Homo sapiens: one gene and its partners. The protein of the gene in region 3 interacts with the protein of the main gene of each other region in a biochemical or structural test. Each region holds a gene or a part of one and is shown on either strand. Other genes may lie near its edges.

Evidence for each region. The genes of interacting proteins can lie anywhere in the genome.
Region 1: of the proteins of DYRK1A (region 3) and EIF2B5, one has a biochemical effect on the other in vitro, tested with the Homo sapiens proteins (one study listed by BioGRID).
Region 2: the proteins of DYRK1A (region 3) and DCAF7 form a complex in vitro, tested with the Homo sapiens proteins (2 studies listed by BioGRID).

The regions. Positions count from the first base shown.
Region 1 is NC_000003.12:184,138,322-184,145,357, forward strand, and holds the end of EIF2B5 (translation initiation factor eIF2B subunit epsilon), read left to right. Parts: intron 1-574; exon of another isoform or gene 575-603; coding exon of another isoform or gene 604-618; intron 619-1,758; coding exon 1,759-1,836; exon of another isoform or gene 1,837-1,894; coding exon of another isoform or gene 1,895-1,900; intron 1,901-2,096; coding exon 2,097-2,409; intron 2,410-3,603; coding exon 3,604-3,749; intron 3,750-3,915; coding exon 3,916-4,057; coding exon of another isoform or gene 4,058-4,073; intron 4,074-4,180; coding exon 4,181-4,282; intron 4,283-4,457; coding exon 4,458-4,565; intron 4,566-4,730; coding exon 4,731-4,821; intron 4,822-5,120; coding exon 5,121-5,244; intron 5,245-5,777; coding exon 5,778-5,903; intron 5,904-6,275; coding exon 6,276-6,386; intron 6,387-6,562; coding exon 6,563-6,622; 3' UTR 6,623-6,990; downstream 6,991-7,036. UniProt on the Homo sapiens protein: Acts as a component of the translation initiation factor 2B (eIF2B) complex, which catalyzes the exchange of GDP for GTP on eukaryotic initiation factor 2 (eIF2) gamma subunit.
Region 2 is NC_000017.11:63,574,441-63,581,476, reverse strand, and holds part of DCAF7 (DDB1- and CUL4-associated factor 7), read right to left. Parts: intron 3,008-7,036; coding exon 2,849-3,007; intron 2,141-2,848; coding exon 2,029-2,140; intron 1,653-2,028; coding exon 1,534-1,652; intron 1-1,533. UniProt on the Homo sapiens protein: Involved in craniofacial development. Acts upstream of the EDN1 pathway and is required for formation of the upper jaw equivalent, the palatoquadrate. The activity required for EDN1 pathway function differs between the first and second arches.
Region 3 is NC_000021.9:37,523,769-37,526,890, forward strand, and holds the end of DYRK1A (dual specificity tyrosine-phosphorylation-regulated kinase 1A), read left to right. Parts: 3' UTR 1-2,590; downstream 2,591-3,122. UniProt on the Homo sapiens protein: Dual-specificity kinase which possesses both serine/threonine and tyrosine kinase activities. Exhibits a substrate preference for proline at position P+1 and arginine at position P-3.

The sequences.
Region 1 (7,036 bases), on a different chromosome or scaffold from region 3:
CAGGGTATATTTCTTCTCCCTGTTTATTTTCATTATTTTTACTTTTATTTTTTGAGACAGAGTCTCGCTCTGTTGCCCAGGCTGGAGTGCAGTGGTGTGATCCCAGCTCACTGCAGACTCTGCCTCCTAGGTTCAAGTGATTCTCCTGCCTCAGCCTCCTGAGTAGCAGGGATTACAGGCACACCACCATGCCTGGCTAATTTTTGTATTTTTAGTAGAGATGGGGTTTCACCATGTTGGCCAGGCTGGTCTCGAACTCCTGGTCTCAAGTGATCTACCTGTCTCAGCCTCCCAAAGTGCTGGGATTACAGGCATGAGCCACCACACCTGGCCTTATTTTCATTTTTATTTATATATATTTTTTGAGACAGGGTCTCGCTCTGTGGCCCAGGCTGGAGCACAGTGGCACCATGACTGCTCACTGCAGCCTCAGCCTCCCAGGTTCAAGGGAACCTCCTGCCTCAGCCTCCTGAGTAGATGGAACCACAGGCATGCACTACCACTAATTTTTGTATTTTTTTGTAGAGACGGGGTTTTGCCATGTTGTCCGGCCTGGTCACGAACTCCTGAGCTCAAGCAATCTGACCACCTCAGCCTTCCAAAATGCTGGGATTACAGGCATGAGCCACCAGTTTTTTTTGTTGTTGTTGTTGTTATTGTTGTTTTGAGATGGAGCCTCGCTCTGTCGCCCAGGCTGGAGTGCAGTGGCATGATCTCAGCTTACTGCAGCCTCCACCTCCTGGGTTCCAGTGATTCTCCTGCCTCAGCCTCTCAAGTAGCTGGGACTACAGGTACGCACCACCACATCCGGCTATTTTTTGTATTTTTCAGTAGAGATGGGGTTTCACCATATTGGCCAGGCTGGTCTCTAACTCCTGACCTCAGGTGATCCTCCCGCCTTGGCCTCCCAAAGTGCTGCAATCACAGGTGTGAGCCTCTGCACCCAGCATTTTTTTTTTTTTTTTTTTTTTTTTTTTGAGTCGGAGTTTCACTCTTGTTGCCCAGGCTGGATGCAATGGTGCGATCTCAGCTCACTGCAACCTCCACCTCCCAGGTTCAAGCAATTCCCCTGCCTCAGCCTCCCAAATAGCTGGGATTGCAGGCATGTGCCACCACACCCAGCTAATTTTTGTATTTTTAGTAGAGACGAGGTTTTACCATGTTGGTCAGGCTGGTCTCGAACTCCCAACCTCAGGTGATCTGCCTGCCTCGGCCTCCCAAAGTGCTGGCATTACGGGCATGAGCCACTGCACCTGGCCTTTTTTTTTTTTTTAGAATCTATTGTAAAGCAAAGATCTTGTCTCCAGTATCCCACTGGGAGTCTCTTTGGAATTCTGGTCCATGTTCAGCTGTCATAGGGTTTGCTAGGTCTCTGGGGGATTATCTGTGCTCCTAGAGAATAGTACTTAATCCTGGCCAAGCGTGGTGGCTCACGCTTGTAATCCCAGCACTTTGGGAGGCCGAGGTGAGTGGATCATGAGGTCAGGAGTTCAAGACCAGCCTGACCAACACAGTGAAATCCCATCTCTACTAAAAAATAAAAATACAAAAATTAGCTGGGCGTGGTGGCGGACGCTTGTAATCCCAGCTACTTGGGAGGCTGAGGCACAAGAATCACTTTAACCCAGGAGGTGGAGGTTGCAGTGAGCCGAGATCATGCAACTGCACTCCAGCCTGGGCAACAGAGCTAGACTTGTCTCAAAAAAAAAAAAAAAAGAATAGTACTTAATTCTAGCCCACTCCACTTCCCTTCCACAGGTGGCACAACTCTTTACAGACAACTTTGACTACCAAACTCGAGATGACTTTGTGCGAGGTCTCTTAGTGAATGAGGAGGTGAGAAAAGTCTTCCAATGCCTCTTTAGGAGAGAGGAGAAGGCTATGATTGTATCTCATGCTGGTAACTTTTGATCTTTTTTGTATTTTATTGAGGCTTAGGAGGGAGGAAAAGCAGGGGACAGGAGGAACAGTACACAAAGAAGAATCTTTGTGGCAGTGAGAGGCAGAGGGGAACTTAAAAGGATTAGAAAAGTTGTACTTGGGGGCATTCTTCCTGTCTTTCTTGCTTAGGTGACCTCCCTTTCCTTCTCATTCAGATCCTAGGGAACCAGATCCACATGCACGTAACAGCTAAGGAATATGGTGCCCGTGTCTCCAACCTACACATGTACTCAGCTGTCTGTGCTGACGTCATCCGCCGATGGGTCTACCCTCTCACCCCAGAGGCGAACTTCACTGACAGCACCACCCAGAGCTGCACTCATTCCCGGCACAACATCTACCGAGGGCCTGAGGTCAGCCTGGGCCATGGCAGCATCCTAGAGGAAAATGTGCTCCTGGGCTCTGGCACTGTCATTGGCAGCAATTGCTTTATCACCAACAGTGTCATTGGCCCCGGCTGCCACATTGGTGAGCACAGGTGGGGAATCAAGCCAACTATCCTAGGAACAGGAACCTGGGGGGGCCACGTCTCCAGAAACACAAGGGATGGCTACACAAGGGACAGTCCCTGGGAATAAGGAACTATAGAGCGGCTACCTCAGGAAAGGAGGAAACAGGGATTTGAAAACAGCGATACCTTAATTTGTAGCCTGTGGGCCTCTCATTGGATGACTCTTCACATTCCAGGGTACCCTGTAGTCACATTCAGGAGCAAGTAGATAATTAACATGCAGTAACAACATCTATTTAGCACATTACAGTTTACAAAGGGCTTTTATATACATTGTTACATTTAATCTTCATAATTTACAAATAAACAGGCTCAACAAGATTTTCTTGCCCAAGGTCATTGGTAATAATGGTGGGACCTGAATCTGGGTATTCTGAATGTAAGTCCAGTGTTCTTTTGAGTCTACCATAACTGCCTGGTTGGCCTCTTGGTATCTCATTTTGGTTGCAGGAGTGTGATGCGTCTAATAGTACTGCCCCTTTCCAAGAACAACAGTAAGGCTCAGATTCTAGGGGCTGAGCGTGGTGGCTCATGCTTGTAATCCTAGCACACTGGGAAGCCATGGTGGGAGGATCGCTTGAGCCCAGGAGTTCAAGACCAGCCTGGGCAACATAGCGACACCCCTTCTCCACAAATGATACAAAAATTAGCTGGGCATGATGGCGCGTGCCTGTAATCTCAGCTATTCGGGAGGCTGAGGCAGGAGGATTACCTGAGCCCAGAGGTCGAGGGTGCAGTGAGTCATGATCATACTACTGCACTCCAGCCTGGGTGATGGAATGAGACCGTGTCTCAAAAGAAAAAAAAGACTTGGTTTCTAAAATGTACCAGAAGAGGTGGAATTATTTGGTTCTGCTTGTAGGCGTGGATATGATTCTAATAAGGTTTTTTGAGTTCAGAGGGTCCCCAGAAATCCTGAAGGTTCTCGGGTTCTTAAGCTCTGTGTGTAGTCTATAATTGTTGTAAACTTGGTGAAGTATCTTCTCAGGCCTGGGCTTAGGGGGTGAGTGGGTGTTTCTGGTGACTTGCGGGATGGGGAATGAGAGCTAGGTGGGAGCTGTGCTGGTGTCAGTCAGCCCTGTCCTCTATGAAGGGCTCTGCTCTGCGGTTGGAACCCTGAGTTACCCAGAGGTCTTCCCATCCTGAGCCAGGTGATAACGTGGTGCTGGACCAGACCTACCTGTGGCAGGGTGTTCGAGTGGCGGCTGGAGCACAGATCCATCAGTCTCTGCTTTGTGACAATGCTGAGGTCAAGGAACGAGTGACACTGAAACCACGCTCTGTCCTCACTTCCCAGGTGAGACCTGATCTATACTGTGCACAGGCCCTGAATTGCATGGCAGTCACACTGAGCCAGAAGGGGCATTATTTCCACCCATAATCCTGTCTAAAAAAGTTGCTCTCATTATCAGGATGCACTTTTCCTCCACACCCTAATGGTTCTGTGTTTTTTTTCCCCTTAGGTGGTCGTGGGCCCAAATATCACGCTGCCTGAGGGCTCGGTGATCTCTTTGCACCCTCCAGATGCAGAGGAAGATGAAGATGATGGCGAGTTCAGTGATGATTCTGGGGCTGACCAAGAAAAGGACAAAGTGAAGATGAAAGGTGTGAGACTCAACAGGTGTGGGGCATCTGTGTGTCTCGCTGCCTCATAGAAGAACCAGTGTTTCCTCCTGGAGGGATTGGTGCTTCCGCCGGGCCCTCTCTATAGATCATTGCCTTTTCCAGGTTACAATCCAGCAGAAGTAGGAGCTGCTGGCAAGGGCTACCTCTGGAAAGCTGCAGGCATGAACATGGAGGAAGAGGAGGAACTGCAGCAGAATCTGTGGGGTGAGCTAGGCCTGATGCCTGCCCTTCTCCTCCTGAATCGGAATATTTTGAAGGATAATGAATACTTCAGAGTCACATTACTTATTCACTCCTTTATTCAGGCAGACAGGGCAGGTATATTGCTCTCTGTCAATGACTCTTTTTTTCTTTTTCCTCACCCATTATGGCTTCTCAGGACTCAAGATCAACATGGAAGAAGAGAGTGAAAGTGAAAGTGAGCAAAGTATGGATTCTGAGGAGCCGGACAGCCGGGGAGGCTCCCCTCAGATGGATGACATCAAAGGTGAGTGGCAGGGGAGAAATGCGCTGGACCAGTTTATTCTCTGCCTGGATCAACTAGCCAGAGGCTTACGTTCCTCAGAAAGGGTTTGGTATCGAGTCAAGACTAGATGACTTAGAGCATTCTGAATGATGTTGGCCCATGAACTTATCCTTGCTTTGATTTCAGTGTTCCAGAATGAAGTTTTAGGAACACTACAGCGGGGCAAAGAGGAGAACATTTCTTGTGACAATCTCGTCCTGGAAATCAACTCTCTCAAGTAAGAGCAGCCCCTCCCTGTTCTCCTCGGGGTGATCCCGGGAAGGTAGAGGCTTTCTCGTAAGTGTTTTGTCTCCAAATAGGAACCTATTCCTTCGACATCCCAAATGGAAAGACCAGTAGTATTTGGAGCAAGGAGAGCATTATTAAGTTCTAGCCTCAGCATAGACTTTCTCCTTCCTAAACCCTCCCCTTCCATATTGTTCCATCCAGATTCCTCTCCAATGTCTATCAAAGTCATAGTTCTAAGCCTGCTGAAAGGCCAGTGAAGGCCCTGGTGTCACCCCAGTCTCCCCACAGGTATGCCTATAACATAAGTCTAAAGGAGGTGATGCAGGTACTGAGCCACGTGGTCCTGGAGTTCCCCCTGCAACAGATGGATTCCCCGCTTGACTCAAGCCGCTACTGTGCCCTGCTGCTTCCTGTGAGCAAAGATTGGAGCTGAGTACAAGGGATTGGGTACAGGCAAAGGAAATCAGGAGTAGACTGTCTTGTTATATTGGGTGTATGTCACTTCTGGTTCCTTTTTCCTTGCCTCTGGAAGCTGGTTGGGCTCTAGAGCAGCCTTGGCTGGTTCAGAGGGGTCAGATTGAGTTCAATACTGACTGGCCTTTGAGACTCCAGGATTTCATACCATCCTAGGCCCACAAAGGTATATTCAGAATGGACCTGGACATTCAGACTCTATGGCAGCAATTTGACCCAACACAAGATCAGCCTCTGGGGTGGGAATAGGTATTTTGAGGCAGCCTATAGCATCTGATCCCCTTTCACCTTCCCTAAGGAATCTCTTTTTCCCAAACCCTGTCAACAACTCCCAAGTCCCTCTGACATAATTCCACAGAACCTGTATCATCTCCCTTTTGTCCACCCATGTCATCAGTATGGATTTGCTTGGATGTCCAGGTATAGGTGAATGCTTAGGAATATACTGCAGCTCCCTTCTTTCTTCCATAGCTGCTAAAGGCCTGGAGCCCTGTTTTTAGGAACTACATAAAGCGCGCAGCCGACCATTTGGAAGCGTTAGCAGCCATTGAGGACTTCTTCCTAGAGCATGAAGCTCTTGGTATTTCCATGGCCAAGGTGAATATGACCTCAAGCCCCATTCTTCTGCACTTGCTTTCAAACGAGGGTTGGTGACCCCCTTGGGAGACATAAAATAGAAGCTAATGTGAATCCAGTATGGACCATCCACTCCCAATATGCTTATTGCTAGAATAGTACAGCTTGGAGCCGGACTAATAAGGTAGCCATCTGGGGGGTGGTCTGGAAATGTGCAAAGCTCTCCCCAGCAATAGTTCCAGAAGTTAGACCTGCCCCAGGAGCAGAGCGAACAGCTCACTCTTGTCCGTTTTGGAGGAGGCTACTCAGTGCATAGAGGGATCTGAGGGCCTGGTAGAGTATCCTGCTGGACTTTCCAAGGCCCCTGAGGTCCCCTTTATTGGCCTTTTGCAGGTACTGATGGCTTTCTACCAGCTGGAGATCCTGGCTGAGGAAACAATTCTGAGCTGGTTCAGCCAAAGAGATACAACTGACAAGGGCCAGCAGTTGCGCAAGAATCAACAGGTGCGTCAGGCTGTCCTCCTCTCGCCAAGATGGTTATCTCATTCCCAGGTCCTGGCCCCTAGACTCTAGGGTGGTTGGTTTCTGGGGCTCTGGTTGTTAGAGCTGTTTATCTGCCGAGGGGAGCAGGAGAGTTATGTGCACCTCCCCCAGCCGATCTCTCCTCTGCTTCTTTACAGCTGCAGAGGTTCATCCAGTGGCTAAAAGAGGCAGAAGAGGAGTCATCTGAAGATGACTGAAGTCACACTGCCTGCTCCTTTGGGTGTGATTGAGTGCCCTCCTGGCTCCTGGGCTGGGACAAGTGAGGAACTAGCTGCAGAGGGATGAGTGACCACCATCCAGGCTGAGACTGAAAGGAGCAGAGGCTGGAACTACAGTATTCTTTCCCCTGCTAGCAACCATGTGCCTCCCATCCTGACTGTGGAGTTGGGATGTGGAAGTGGGGCTGGAACAAAGCTTCTGCCTAGGGAGGAGCTAAGCAGGCCCGGCAGTTGGAGGAAGGCCAGAGGAACAGCTTTGTGCTCCGGCTTTCCCTCAGGGAACAGCAGAGAGCAGTTGGCTCTTTCTGCTGCTTGTATATGTTAATATTAAAAGAGAGAGTGGTGTATTTGGTTTGTCTCCATCCCTGACTAATCAGCCAGTGAAGTATGTGA
Region 2 (7,036 bases), on a different chromosome or scaffold from region 3:
GGCTCCAGGAACCCTGCCTCCTCCCATGGTCCCTCTGGCCTATAGGCAGCTGCAGCTTCCTGCTGCTCCCATTCTATGGATGACCTCACTGCTACCTATGTGGCTTCTCAGCTTTACCATCTTCTGTATAAGCAGCCCCTGGATTAAATCCCTGCAGTTCAAATACTTAAGAGTAGTTCCCATTTTCTGGGTTGGACCTAACAGACAACAGCAGGCTAAGTTGTCATATAACTAAAATGTAGCCGCTTGTTCAACTTGATGCCAAGAGGGTTTCCAGAAGTTCCTTACTGGTCCTCTCTGTGGGACAAACTCTTCATTTGACCCCTGGTTTAGCAGCAGTCAACTCTAGAAGTCTTGTAACAGGGCTTACCTTCAGGAGTACAGAAAGCCAAAGACAACCCCTTACTAAGAATGATAACCTGGGTCACATCTTCCTATGCTGTTGACAACCTCAAGTTTCTGACCTAAGATCAAGGCATTCCTTTTATCTGTATAGATATTAATACCCCTAGCTGTGCAGGGTAAGGTAGAAAAGAACAGGAAATAGTACCCACAGGAGATGAGAGTACCAGGAGCATGCAATGGCTGTAGGAGGAAAAGACTTATGGGGATTTTCCAAAATCACTGAGAAGAATGCTTTGATTAAAATGCAATTGGCCGGGCGCAGTGGCTCACGCCTGTAATCCCAGCACTTTGGGAGGCCAAGGTGGGTGGATCACCTGAGGTCAGGAGAGTTCGAGACAATCCTGGCCAACATGGTGAAACCCTGTCTCTGCTAAAAAATACAAAAATTAGCCAGGGGTGGTTGCGGGCACCTGTAATCTCAGCTACTCCGGAAGCTGAGGCAGGAGAATTGCTTGAACCCAGAAGGCAGAGGATGCAGTGAGCCCAGATTGCGCCATTGCACTCCAGCCTGGGCAACAAGAGGAAAACTTTGTCTCAAAAAAAAAAAAAAAAAAAAAAAAAAAAGCAATCACAAATAGCTCTTCTCAGTTTTCCCAATAAACACAGAAGCATCGCCATCAAAATAAAATATATTCCATTGCCTCCACTGCCAACAGTAATGAAAGTATAAAGATTAAGTGAACATACTAGGATTTGGTAAAACATTTATAGAGAAAAATGAATAATTACGTTTGTCTCTCAGAAAATTTTTTCTCTTCCTGTCTCCCTTCTTTCCTCCCCAAATCTAATCTGTTTCAAGATAAGTATTACTCTAAAGTTATTTTTTAATCACATCAGTTCCCAGCTCCTCTATAAGAGACTTTGTTATTTAAAAAAAGCAACCTCTGGCATGAAAAGAACAATGACAGACCGTAGAATAGGTCATTTACATTAGCCAAAAAAAAGCATTAGTTTACAATAGTGTTGTTTTCCCGTTTTTGATACATTACTATTGTCAATTTAGACAAGAAGATGTTATGTTATGATTTTCTACATAAATTGCAGAACAATGAGAGAACAAGCTGACCTCTTCCTGTGCGGAAGGCACAGGAAGCATTTGAGGAAAGACGAAATGGAAAAGCATCTTACCTCTTTGTCATGGGCGATCAGCTGGGTCTTCACGTGGCCAGACACGAGATTCACTCGCCCTAACACCTGCCCTGTCTCCAGCCCCCAGATGGTGCATGTCGTATCAATGCTTGAGGTACCTGCAAACAACCAGTGCAAGTCAGGGCTGACGGGACCAAGGTTCTCATGCAAGCTTCCCTCTTGTGTTTACTCATCTGCTCAGCCCAGGGAGCAGCATACCATAAAGACTACAGAAAACAAGGTGGGGGCTACCGGCAGAGCCACCGAGGCAGTCAAGTCTTCAGTCCTCACCGTAGGACCTTAGATTCTAACTGGAGAGACAAGATCTATACACACGGAAAGCTCACCCACACAAAGGAATTAATAAATAACCACATTCCACGCCTAGCCTACTTCCCACTGAGCCTTGTTCTAGGATGTATGGCCCAGTGTGACATCTGAGAAAATTTATTTTGGCTTCTTCCAGCTGAAATACATACTCCCTAACTCCCTTACCTAAAAGATAAGGATCCACCTCATTCCAGTCAAAGGAGGTCAGGGGAGCACAGAAATCAGAGTTCTTATTATTGTTTAGCAAACACTCCAGCCTGGTCTCTGTTTCACCAACCTGAAGGAACAAGAATTTTAAAAAAAATCAGCCAGTCTTATCCTCATAAAAAGTCTTTTAAAAAATCCCTGTTTAGAAAATATCTTAGCAAACATAAGACATGAGGGGAAAACATTTTTATCAAAAACAGTAATAAACCCAGGACTCCCTGAATGCTACTTTTTCCCATACTTTCTCCTCTGCCCAGCTTTGTTTTCTACATTTTCATCCCTGCACCTTCCTAGAGGAGAGGTCTTCTCACTTTGCCCAGCCTGGAACCTCTGCACAGGTGTACTAAGGCCACGCCCATGCTACAGAGGACGCTGCTGCTGATGAGCTCAGCTGAGGGTGGAGGGAAGCCTCCAAGATCCACTCACACACTTTATCAGAATCAATGGCCTGGTATTTCATTTAGTTTACTCAAAAATACCTTGGCTGCAAACAGAATATGAGTTCCCAAGTATTCCCACCTCCACTGAAGGCCGTCATCATCACCTCGGGTTGACTGAGCTGACTGCAGCCAGCAGCCAGACTTCATGGAATCTTGACTTGATATACTAGAAAATCTGCTGAGCCAAACGAGGCCAGTCCATTTAAGCTTCGCTTGCTTCTCCTGTGCTGCAATGACACTCGCTGCCTCTGACCCCTGTCTGTTCTGTGACTTTTCACTGCTAACAGCTGAGGCTGAGAAAGCCCACTTGTCTGGCTGCTAATAAAGCATCCGCTTACCCTCCACACACGGAGATAGTCACCGCTTGTTGCCAGTAGGTCTGGATAGACGCCTTTTGTGTCAGGGATCCACATGAGCTTTGTGGTGGGGTATGGGTGGTCAAAGGTGTTTCTGCAAATAAACTCTGAACTCTCCTCATCTAAACCAACAAGCTGAACCTGTAACATACCAAAGTTGAGCCACATAAGCATTTGTGAGCAGTACAGCAAATACATTAGATCCCTGGTCAGTGACAGAGGTTTTTTTTGTTTGTTTTTTGTTTTAAAGACAGGATCTTGCTCTGTTGCCCAGGCTGGAGTGCAGTGGTGCAACCACAGCTCAGTGCAGCCTCCACCTCCTGGTCTCAAGTGATCCTTCCACCTCAGCCTCTCAAGTAGCTGGGGTTAGAGGCATGCACCACCAGACACAGCTAATTTTGTTCATTTTTTGTAGAGACAAGGCCTCACATGTTGCCCAGGCTGGCCTTGAACTCCTGGGCTCAACTGATCCTCCCACCTCAGCCTCCCAAAAGTGCTGGGATTACAGACATGAGTCACTATGCCTGGCCAGTGACAGAAGTCTTGACACTGTACTACACTAAACTGCAGAATCAAAAACGATTGCCATGAGAGGGTATCTAGTCCAACCATCCTCTGGCAGACAAGGACACCCAGACTCAAAGGGGTGGTTACACTCAACACTGCAAAGCCAGTAGGAGACAGAGATTACAGGTTTTCTGACTCAAGTCTGCATTCTTGACTCCAACTACATAAGTGCACTATCTGCCAGGCCAGGCACACCTTCCCCTGAAACCCCTAAGGTATTTGAAAATGACCAGGGGTGGTTCTTGGCTGCCACAATGACTGAAGTGCTGAGGACATTTGGTGCTCAGGGGCCAGGAATATGAAACACCCTTTGCAATTTCATTAAACAAACTAATGCTCACTTAAAAATCCAATAGTGCACAACCCTCACCAACCCCAAACTCAACACTGGCTCATTATGTTTACACATAAAGGTATGTCAAATGACCGTTTGAGAGCCCAAACCACTGTGACTGGCAAAAAAAAAGTCGGCGCCATTGATGAGAAAGTCCCACCTAGCTCTGATCACTTTTTCTTAGAGTCAATTTTAGCCCACCATTAACTTCCAATCTTTGCTGTCAAACTCAATCTGGCTCAATGGGACACTAACTGTACATTTGCTTATGAACTTCCAACTGGAAGATGGAATAGTGGGGATATTTGGTAAACATCCACAATAAGGGGAAAAGCACTAACCAGACAACACAAAATAAAATTCCTTCTACTCATCTTTCTGACCTCAGTCTCAGACACACCAGTATCTTCCAGACATTTTCCCCCCAAAGTTAGGTATAGTTGCATATAATAAAACCCACTCAAGTGTACAGTTAAATGAGTTTTGGCAAATGTACAGTTGTATAACCCCCACAGTAAGATATAAAACATTTCCATTAACCCAGAAAGCTCTCCCAGGCTCCTCCGCAGTCAACCCCTCATACCTACCCCAAGTAGCCACTGATCTATGGTTTTGTCTCTCCATAATACGATATAAATAGAATCAGATGGTCTTGAGTCTTTGTGTCTGGCTACTTTCATCAGTACACTGCTCTTGAGATTCATCCATGTTCTTGTGTGTATCAGTAGTTGCTTCTTTTCTTACTGCTGAATAATATTGCATTATGTGCAATGTGGCAGTATAATTTTGGGTTGTTGAGATAGGGTCTCACTCTGTTGCACTGGTTCGAGTGCAGTGGTGCAATCGTGGTTCACTGCAGGCTCAACCTCCTGGGCTTAAGCAATCCTCCAGCTTCAGCCTCCTGAGTAGCTGGGACCACAGGCATGTGCCACCACACCCAGCTAATTTCTAAATTTTTTGTAGAGATGGGGTCTCCTTATGTTGCCCAGGCTGGCCTCGAACTTCTGGGCTCAAGTGATCCTCCTGGCTTGGCCTCCCAAAGTGCTGGGATTACAGGCGTAAGCACCGCACCCAAAAAATTTTTTATGTCCTAGTTGAGAAATCTTTGCCTAATCCCAGGTCCCAAATATTTTTCCCTGTTTTCTTCTAAAAGTTTTCTAGTTTTAGGCTTCATATTTAGGTCTCTGAGTCATTTCAAGTTAAATTTTTATATGGTACAAGATATGAATCAAGGTTTGCTTTTTGTTGTTGTTTTTCCTTTTGAGACGGAGTTTTGCTCTTGTCACCCAGGCTGGAGTGCAATGGGCACAGTCTTGGCTTACGGCAACCTCCACCTCCTTGGTTCAAGCAATTCTCCTACCTCTCTGCCTCCTAAGTAGCTGGGACTACAGGCATGTGCCACTACGCCCGGCTAATTTTTTAATATTTTTAGTAGAGAAGGGTCTTCACCATTTTGGCCAGTCTAGTCTCGAACTCTTGACCTCAGGTGATCCACACGCCTCGGCCTCCCAAAGTGCTAGGATTACAGGCGTGAGCTACAGCTCCCGAACAAGGTTTGCTTTTTTACATATGAACGTCTGACTCTTCCAGCATCATTGGTTGAGAATTCTTTCTCCTTTGCATTACCTTGACCCCTTTATTGAAAATCAGTTGACCATGTATTTATTCATCTATTTCTGGACTCTATTCTGTTCCATTATTTATTTGCCTATCTGTCTGCTAGTAGGCAAACTGTCTTGATTATAGTAGCTTTCTAGTAAGTTCTAAAATCAGACAGTGAGTTCTCCAACTTTGTTCTTCTGTTTCAAAATTGTTTTGCTATTCTCTACTTTTGCTTTTCCATGTACATTTTACAATCAGCTTGTCGAATTTTACAAAAAGCCTGCTGAGATTCTGATTGGGATTGTGTTGAATCTATTGAGCAGTCTGGGGAGAACTGACATCTTACAATATTAAGTCTTCCAACGCATAAACATAGCACATTTCTCCATTAATTTACGCCTTTTTTAAGTTCTTTTTTTTCAGACAGAGTCTCGCTCTAGCACCCAAGCTGGAGTGCAGTGGCACGATCTTGGCTCACTGCAACCTCTGCCTCCCATGTTCAAGTGATTCTCATGCCTTAGCTGGGACTACAGGTGCGCACCACCACGCCCAGGCAATTTTTGTATTTTTAGTAGAGATGGGGTTTTGCCATGTCGGCTAGGCTGGTCGCTAACTCCTGGCCTCAAGTGATCTGCCTGTCTCGCCCTCTCAGGGTGCTGATATTACAGGCGTGAACCACTACGCCCGGCTGCCTTAATTTCTTTCAGCAATGTTTTAAAGTTTTCAGTGTACTTCTTATGATTCTTTCATTAATTTTATTTCTTTATTTCTTTTTCTGAGACTGAGTCTCGCTCTGTCGCCTCAGCTGGAGTGTAGGGGCATGATCTCCGCTTACTGAAACCTCCGTTTCCCAGGTTCAAGCAATTCTCCTGCCTCAGCCTCCCATGTTGCTGGAATTATAGGCGTGCGTGACCACGCCTGGCTAATTTTAATTTTTATTTTTTGTATTTTTTAGTAGAGACAGGGTTTCACCATGTTGGCCAGGCTGGTCTCAAACTCCTGACCTCAAGTGATCTGCCCATCTCAGCCTGACAGAGTTCTGGGATTATTGGCATGAGCTACTGCGCCTGGCCCATTAACTTGATTTCTACACAAGTTTTATGCTATTATAAATGAAATTGTGTTTTATTTTTTTTAAGATAGGATCTTGCTTGTCACCCAGGGTGGAGTGTAGTGGCTCAATCACAGCTCACTACAGCCTTGACCTCCTAGGCTCAATTGATCCTACCACCTCAGCCTCCCAAGTAGCTGGGACTACAGGTACAAGCCACCGTACCCAGCTAATTTTTGTATTTTTTGTAGAGACAGGGTTTTGCCATGTTGCCCAGGCTGGTCTTGAACTCCTGGGCTCAAGTGATCCACCCACTCTGGCCTCCCAGTATGCTGGGCTTACACATATGAGCCACTGTGCTTGACCATGAAACTGTTTTAAATTCCATTTCCAATTGTTCATTGGTACTGTATATAGAAATACAACTGATTTTTGTACATTAATCTTGGCTTCTATAACTTTGCTACATTAGTTATTAGTTTTAGTAGCTTTTTTGTAGATTCCTAAGGATTTTTCTACATATATTCATAGATCTTGTCATCCATGTTTAACTCTTAAAAATCCATATGACTAAGTCTAAATATTCATTTTATGGAGCACCCACAGACTTTCAACA
Region 3 (3,122 bases):
AATTTCAGTGTCCATAAATGAAGTTTTATTGGAACATAACCACATTCATTTGCAAGTTGTCCACGGCCACTTTGGTGCTACTGTGGCAGAATTGAGTAGTTGCTGCAGAGACCGTATGATGAGAATATGTGGCATTCTCATCATTTTGCCCTGCCGCTCTGTGCAATGTAAATTGCAGTGACACAGTTATAACTCAGCAGCATTTTGAATGCCACTTGTATTCCCATGCTACAACATTTTATTTTTTATTACCAATATATACAAGAAAAGTGGATTTCAAATATCATTGTGCTTTTAAGGTACAATGGAGTATGAATTGTTACTGAATTAGGCAGCAAAGTGCAATGACATGGTAGCTGTCCTAAGGAACACAATACAACCAGGTGCAGTGGCTCATGCCTGTAATCCCAACGATTTGGGTGGCTGAGGTGGGAGAATCACTTGAACCCAGGATTTGGAGACCAGCTTGGGTGGTATAGTGAGACCCCCCATCTCCACAAAAAGTAAAAAAAAACCAAAATACATGTTGTTACTTCCCATCTTAGCACTCATCAAGATATTTCTAATTCACAAGAAAGCAATGGTCAGAAAAATTAGAAAATTTAAAATTGAATATCTCATCACAGAATTTATTCACAAAAATAAAAAATGAAAATGAAGCTACAACCAAAGTAAGTTTCAGATGGCTCATTTGTTAGCCAAGCAAGGAAAGTCACTTATGGTGAATTAATTAAATCATGCTTGATTACTGCAGCTGAAGAAACATGCTCAGAGAAAGTAAACTTGTTTATTGGCCTTTCCACGACAACAGTTGCTCAAAGAGTTGACATTAGGAATGACATCAGTAGTCGACTAAAAAGGCAAATGGTTTTGAGTGGTTTCCCCTGACTCTCATGACAGGGGTCACCATATGTTATGCACACTGCTCCGCTATTGCTCTTTATTTGAGGAGCCAGTACCAAGTTGGAAGTAACTGAAGAATTGGCCTCTATCAATAGTCTTATGTGGAACAACTACTGGCAAAAGTATTTTCAAAGCTGAGAAAACTGGTCAGGTGTGGCGGCTCATGCCTATAGTCCCAACACTTTGGGAGGCCAAGGTGGGCAGATCACCTGAGGTCAGGAGTTTGAGACCTGCCTGGCCAACATGGTGAAACTACATCTCTACTAAAAGTACAAAAATTAGCCGGGCATGATGGCATGCACTGGTAATTCCAGCTACTCAGGAGGCTGAGGCAGGAGAATCGCTTGAACCCAGGAGGTGGAGGTTGCAGTGAGCTGAGATTGCACCACTGTACTCCAGCCTGGATGACAGAGTGAGAACATTGTCTCAAAACAAAAAGTTGAGAAAACGAATTCAGTACACCCTGAAGTGGAATCTGCTAAGATGTGTTATGACTGTTGGTAGTGGAAATATATGTGTGTATTAGTCCATTTTCATACTGCTATAAAGAAAAGCCTGAGACTGGGTAATTTATAAAGAAAAAGAGGTTTAATGGACTCACAGTCCCGCATGGTTGGGGAGGCCTCACAATCGTTGTGGAAGGTAAAGGAGAAGCCAAGGCAAGTCTTAGGTGGCGGCAAGCAAGAGAGTGTGTGCAGGGGAACTGCCCTTTATAAAACCATCAGATCTCATGAGACTTACTCACTATTATGAGAACAGCATGGTAAAATCCTGCCTCCATGATTCAGTTACCTCCCACTGGGTCCTACCCATGACACGTGGGGATTATGGGGGCTACAATTCAATGAGATTTGGGTGGGGACACAGCTAACTCATATCAGTGTGGAATAGAAAATGGCTCAGTTGGACAACTTACAAAGCTTGTAATAATATAAGGTGTTAAAGCCTATAGATTATTCATTGTATTATTTAAGTCAACAGATACTTTGTGAGAAATATTTGAATCTATCATGCATTATTGAACCAGTATTGTCAATAGTGAACTTCCTTTAGCTCTTGTGGACTTCACTATCAACAGCTCTCATGAATTTTTGTCAGAAATATTAGCTGAATATCCCGACATGGCCTGTAATACAGCAGTTCAATGGTTTAGTAGTGGTAAAGTTTCATTTAAGTTTTGAGCTCAGGACAAAGATTGAAATTTTTCTGAATGAGAACTGCCCCGAACCACCGTTACTAAACACTGAATAGTTTTGGAAATTCACTTTTGCTGCAGACTTGATAGTGTTTCTTAAGGAATTCAGCCTAAACCACAAGATAAAAACAGTGTTTATGTGAAACTCCTACTGTGTTAAGTGATTTCAAGAAGAACTATTGTTTGAATCACAACTAATGTTACTGCTTTAAGCTCTTCCCATGTTGTTAAAAGTTAAAAAAAGAAGAGCTCCATTCCCACACACATTTGCCACAGATACATTATCTGAGCCCAAACTACAGTTTGAGCAGTGTGTTAGGGACCTCAATGCAAACCCAAAAGAAATTTTTATATTTCAGAATCCATTGATCTGCATTTGAGAAGTGATTAATGTGTTGAAAGGCAACTATCTAAAGAAAAATTTAATAGAGTCTAATAGAATCTTATAAAAATGTATAAATGTGTTTTATGTAATAAATATGCTAAGCTAAACATCTTATGCTCATGAGCTGGGTGCAGTGGCTCACACTTGTAATCCCAGCACTTTGGGGGTCTGAAATGGGAGGATCACTTCAGCCTAGGAGTTCAAGACCAGCCTGGGCAACATGGTGAAACCCTGTCTCTACAAAAAAAAAAAAAGTACAAAAATTAGCCTCGCTTGGTGGCACATGCCTGTGGTCCCAGCTACTTGGGAGATGGAGGTGGGAGCATCATCCGAGCCTGGGAGGCAGAGGTTGCAGTGAGCTGAGGTCACACCACTGCTCTCCAGCCTGGGTGACAGAGCAAGACCCTGTCTCAAAAAAAAAAAAAAAATGCTCATGGACATAGTAGTGTTGGGAAGGTACCTATCTGTGTGAAGACATGTTCAAAGATGAACTGTGTCACATCTCATTCCAAATCAGCATTAACAGATAAATATATGCAAATATGCAATTGGTTTTGACGATTCACAACACTAGCTCTGAATCTCAATTAGGGAAATGTTATTCCCCCAAAAGATTTCCAATTCTTATTGGTAGACCGG